Linked DNA regions of Homo sapiens: region 1 is linked to region 2. Evidence: fine-mapped expression QTL. A gene starts in region 2. The other region holds a variant in brackets. All regions are shown on one strand. Distances are from middle to middle.

What was found. PIP is the estimated chance that this variant, and not a neighbour inherited with it, causes the effect.
Region 1: its variant is fine-mapped to the expression of KHNYN in naive CD4 T cells (Schmiedel 2018, PIP 0.92).

The regions. Positions count from the first base shown.
Region 1 is chr14:23,901,686-23,904,699 of GRCh38, forward strand. LINC00596 (long intergenic non-protein coding RNA 596) reads right to left here and starts at 1,254. Exons shown (of 4, transcript XR_429343.4): 1 at 890-1,254. The variant T/C (reference allele first, on the strand shown) is at 1,438.
Region 2 is chr14:24,428,549-24,431,255 of GRCh38, forward strand. It overlaps KHNYN (KH and NYN domain containing), which reads left to right and starts at 1,406. Exons shown (of 8, transcript NM_015299.3): 1 at 1,406-1,571; 2 at 2,166-2,383. The coding sequence starts at 2,183. CBLN3 (cerebellin 3 precursor) reads right to left here and starts at 1,120. Exons shown (of 3, transcript NM_001039771.3): 1 at 207-1,120. The coding sequence starts at 506. RefSeq lists a silencer at 1,243-1,782 and enhancers at 1,813-1,992, 2,137-2,700, 2,553-2,662, 2,701-2,707.

The DNA of each region.
Region 1 (3,014 bases), 530 kb before region 2:
GTTCTAATGCCAACTACTTTGTCAAGGATGCAAACCACTTTTCTACTCAAAAGAATTTATAGATTCACAACTATGAAAGCCAGAAGAAGTTAAGCATACTTTGGAAAGAAATTGCCTGACATAGAGGCATTTTCCACATATTTAAGCCTGACTCCAAAACTGTCAATGGAAGCCTGTATCTTGCTGACAAGTCCAAGAAAACCTGTTCAGAGCAGCCCAGGCTGAGACTGGGAAGGTGCACTTGAAGGCAGGACCAGGCAAGAGGCTCTGTAGTTAACTTGGTTTCCCACCCTCAGCCAGCATTTAGGCACCCCACTAACTTCAATGTTCATGTTGGGTTAGAATACAAAATTGCTTGAATTTTAGTTCACAACACGTATCCAATTCATAACTGAATTCATAAAACATTATGGCTTAGAAGTTAAGAGCATGGGAGCCTGGCCATCATGGTGAAACCCTGTCTCTAAAAAAAAAAAAAACTATAAAAATTAGCCTGGCATGGTGGTGCATGCCTGTAGTCCCAGCTACTCAGGAGGCTGAGGTGGGAGAATCGCTTGAACCCGGGAGGCGGAGGCTGCAATGAGCCAAGATGGCATCACTGCACTCCAGCCTGGGCAACAGAGTGAGATCCTGTCTCAAAAAAAAAAAAAAAAAGTTAAGAGCATGGGGTTTAAAGACAAATCTATGTGTTAATGAATAATGATTATATTTGTTGGGCAAGTTATTTAACTTGTATATGACTCAGTTTCCTATGTGTCAAGCAGGGATAGTACCACCCACTTCAGTGGGCTTGCATGAAGATGAAAACACCAAATGAACCTCAGTTAGGCACATAGAATATACGCCAAAAAAATGGACTAATAGTAGAAATAACTGCTCTAGAACTCACCTTAGGAGAAAAGAGCCTGATTTCCACAGAGAACAAACATCAGCTGTGCTACAGCCTGCTTTATCCAGCTGAATCTCAGCTTTGTCTGCCGGGATCCCAGCACACAATCCTCATGATCCCATAAGAGGCTCAAGGCATCTACAGAGGACAGACATTAAGACAGAGATGTGACTTTTTTTCTAGGTTCAGGAGTACATGTGCAGGTTTGTTATGTAGGTACATTGCATGTCACAGGAGTAGTTTTTCCAGCCTCACCCTCTTCCCATCCTCCGCCCTCAAGTAGACTCTGATGTCTGTTGTTCCCTTCTTTGTATCCATATGTACTCAATGTTTAGCTCCCACTTATAAGGGAAAACATTAAGTATTTGGTTTTCTACTCCTGCATTAGTTTTCTTAGGATAATTGTCTCTAGCTCCATGCATGTTGCTGCAAAGGACACGATTTTGTTCTTTTTACTGCGGCATAGTATTCCATGATGTATACATACCACATTTTCTTTATCCAGGCTACCTTTTTTTTTTTTTTTTTGAGACAGAATCTCACCCTGT[T/C]GCCCAGGCTGAAGTGCAATGGCGTGATCTTGGCTCACTGCAACCTCCGCCTCCAGGGTTCAAACGATTCTCCTGCCTCAGCCTCCCAAGTAGCTGGGATTGCAGGCGGCCACCACTATGCCCAGTAATTTTTTTTGTATTTTTTGTAGAGACAGGGTTTCACCATGTTGGCCAGGCTGCTCTCTCCAGCCTACCATTGATAGGCATTTAGGTTGATTCCATGTCCTTGCTATCATAAATTGTCCTGTGATAAACATACGTGTGCATGTGTCTTTATAGTAGAATGATTTATATTCCTTTGGGTATATACCTAGTAATAAGGTTGCTGAGTTGAATCGTGATTCTGTTTTTTAAGTTCTTTCAGAAATCACCAAACCACTTTCCACATTGGCCAAATTAATTTATATTCCAAGCAGCAGTGTACATGTTTCCCTTTCTCCAAAAAAAGGTGTGTTTTTTTAAGAGACTAAGAAACTCCAAATATTGAATGACGTCTATCACGTGCAATGACTCTGGAGAAGTATAAAATACGAACTCTGCCCTTAAGATATTGTCAGCCTGGTGGCAGTGGGAGGAGGGGCAGGGGAAACACTGAAAGTTGGGTTGGAGAGACAGCCATGTAAAACCAAGTAGATGTATTTATAAGGCTTCCCTGAAGTAGGGATGCCTTTGCTGAGTCTGAGGGAAGAGTAGGAACAATCCAGGGAATGAGAAGATGCAAGCATGAAATGCAAGAACATTGTTATGTTTATAGTAGAAGGAGCTTGTGAAGGCAAGGGAGAGGAGTCAGGGACAAATCAACAAAATCCCAGTGTAGGAAGCCAAGAAATGTACATTTTATCATCAAAGCCATTGAATCTCCACAATGAGATGAACTTGATCAGCTTTTCACCTTGGAAAGACTCCTCCAGCTTAGTTTGGAAGTAAGAGCAGAACAGGAGCTACAGCTACACTCCAGGAAAGACAGATGACCACTCCAACAAAATGCAGTGACTGAGGAATCAGGAGAAGATCAACTAAAAGCTAGCAGATATCATATTAGCAGGCCTTGGTGACAATTGCATATGGAAGAAGTGAGAAGGATCTTGGCTGACTGCGGTTTCTGGCTTAGACAACTGAATGGATAGTGGGCCCATATGTTAACATAGAAAATGCAAGGAAAGGACCAGAGTTCCTGGGAGCTGATGTGCACAGTCCATAGAGATTCAGACGGGTCCCTGTGCACTGTGGCGGTAAGCAAATCTGTGAAAGAGGCCCTGCATGATGGACAGAATGTGATTTGGTGTCTTTCAGTATAAGCCTCCATCCTGGTTTGGGGCTTTGAGGACTCAACAAAGTGAAGTCTGGAAAGAGGGCAGGGAGACCTCCTGGTGTGTCCTAGGGGGAGGAGAAAGGAAAGGATGCCCTGACTTAGAGAGGAGAGAGAACAGTAGCTGCCCAGACACCCCAGGACCTGCCCAATCTTGAGCTACTCCTGTTGCTGGGATTCCCTCTGTGCCCTAGACAAAGCAACTGGGACTCATCATAAAGGTAAGAAGATTGTATATTGAATATTTTATATAAATAGATCTATAGAG
Region 2 (2,707 bases):
ATGGTGAGAAGGGGCAAGGAGAGGGCTGCGTATGGGTGGAGGGAGGGGAAACCGTCGGTGGGGTGGTGGGGCAATAGGCCAGATTAGTGAAAGATGTAGGAAGCTGTTTTCTTAAAGCCTCAGAGACAGCAAAGTGGGCTTGGACAGTTGCTTCCAGGTCCTTGCAGGGTCTTTCCAGGTCCCCTGGACAGGGGTAGGGGGATTACCTGGTCGAAGTAGATGGCCCCACTGGTGCCATTGCCGGTTTCCCCTGCTGGCTCATGGTGGTGGCTTCGGACCGCAGCAAATGCCACTCGCCCAGGGGGTGCCTCTCCCAGGGCTGCTCCCCCGGGCCCCCCTGCAGCAGCTCGGCCAGGCTCACAGACCACCAGGCACTCCCCCTCCAGCAGGACGGGCTCTGACCCCTCCTGGGCCCACCCGGCCCCCAGGGCCAGAAGCACCAGAACCAAGGGCAGCCCGGGACTGTGTAGGGGACCTGGTAGCCAGTGTGGCTTGGCTCCCAACATGGCTGAGGGGCTCTGCAACCCACAAGTGCCCCGGTCTTCTGCCCCTCTTCTGTTTCCGCTCCTCTCCCTGGATTCTCACCGCCGGCACCCTGATCGTCTGCCCTCTCTAGGCTCGCTGAACCCCCTCTCCATACCTGTGTCCCAGCTCTGTCCTGCCTCCCACTCTTACTCCTGCTGTCACTGCAGTTCCCTCCTCCTTGGCAGAGCATGCAGTGACAGCAGTTGGGCTTTGGGAGAGAAAGGAGGGATGAAGCCGCCTGCCCACTGGACGGGAGGGCTGCAGCCAGAGCTTCAGGGCAGCCCTGCTGGATGGGACAGCACTGAGGGCTGGACCTGGGGGGATGGAGAACATGGTATGTGTGTGTGACGGGTGTGACAGAATGTGTGAGTGTGTGCATATGCCAGAGGCAGCCCCTCAACCCCTTCCTCCTACTCTTCCTCTCTTCAAAATCCCCCACAAATCAACAGCCCTTCTTCGTGGCATCTTTCCGTTTGTTGGAAGAAAGGGGTACTCCACCACGGGTACCCTCCGCCTCCCGCCTCCCGCCTACCCCCTCCGCCACGATTGCTTTGGTGGAAAGTGCTTGGGCCTAGAGCACCAGTGGGCCAGTCACGCTGCCTCTTTGGTCGGCCACATCTTTATTCGCGGGAAACAACTTTCAACGCATGGTTCCCCTTTCCGAGAAGTAACTGCGCAGAATGCGCGAGGACCCTGAGGGCCGGGAGACAGACGGGAGGGCTGGTGAGAAGCGCAAGGGGCGAGCCCTGGAGCCGCCGAGGGGACTAGGCCGAGCGGGCCCGTCGGGGCCTCTGGGCGCGGCGGCGGGGTTGGGAGGAGGGCGCGCAGCCGGGAGGAGCTGGGCTGACTCCGCCCCAGGCCAGGAAGTGACTCAAGAAACAGTTTGCGTGCGATGTGGACAAGAGAGGTCCCCGCTGGGTGAGGAACCCGGGAAGGCCCGCCCAGATTCGGGCCCCCTGCCCTTGTCCCCTGGGCTGGGGGCGCGGGCAAAGCGGGGGCCTGGCGGGCGCTGAGAGGACCTGAAGCCGGCGCGGGCGGCGGAGGCGGTAGGCGCGCCCCTCCACCGCGCCCGGGAGCGGGGAGCGGGGGCCGCGGTGCGGAGTAGGCCCGGCCCGGGGTGGCTGCCCCAGTCCGCGGTGGGCGGGCCCGGCCCGGCCCGGCCCCTGGGCCCTGGGCGGTGCTCCTGGCCCGACGGAGAGGGGCAGCGGACGGCTGGGGGAGGGGTGGGAGTGGCTTGAACCTTGGAAATGGCAGACCAGGGCCCCCAGAGGACAGCCTAGTTCAATCCCCTGCTGAGGATTCGTCCTTAAGAAGCTTCAGAGTGCCCCAGGAGACTCCTTCTGGCCTCCAGGCCGAGCTGGAGCCCCCCCACCCTTCTTGCTCCGGACTGTGGTCATCCTTTTCCAAAGCCCAGACGCCCACTCTCGATAGACAGCCTTGTTTACCGGGACTTCCTCTCCGGAGAGGCCTGCGTGACATACACCCTCCCTACCTCCAGTGGACTCAGATGCTTGTCACCTCCTGGGGCTGTTTACCAGAGCCTTAACTAGGTGCGACCTGTTGATAGCTGGTGTAGTCCCAGGAACCAGGATTTGGATGGAGGGTACAATGAGGCTCTGAGCTGCCTTCTCCCCTTCCAGGGCTGGGGGCAGCAGCCATGCCTACCTGGGGGGCCCGCCCCGCGTCCCCAGATCGCTTTGCGGTGTCTGCGGAGGCTGAGAACAAGGTTCGGGAACAGCAGCCCCATGTGGAGCGCATCTTCAGCGTGGGGGTGAGCGTCCTTCCGAAGGACTGTCCGGACAACCCCCACATCTGGCTGCAGCTGGAGGGCCCCAAGGAAAACGCCAGCAGAGCCAAGGTGAACGCCTTCTCTCCCCCATCCCTCCAGGCACCAAGGACGCTTTCCCCCAGGGCGGAGGAGAGCAGGGCCGAGGAGAGCAGGGAAGAGGAGGGGCCTGGGGAGGATCTCCACTTCTTGGTTGTCTCACTGGCAACCTCAGTGCCCCTGAGTTTTGAGGGACTTTCCAACTCTATATTTGTTTTCAGTTTCAGCTTAATTTCTTCTGTGATGGCCCAGGCTGGCAAAAATCATTCTGTGCTCTTTGGGAGAATAGAGATATCTGGCTGAACAAGTTGGCCCCACCAAGGAATGCACTGTGGGGTGGGAGGCTGGGCCACATTG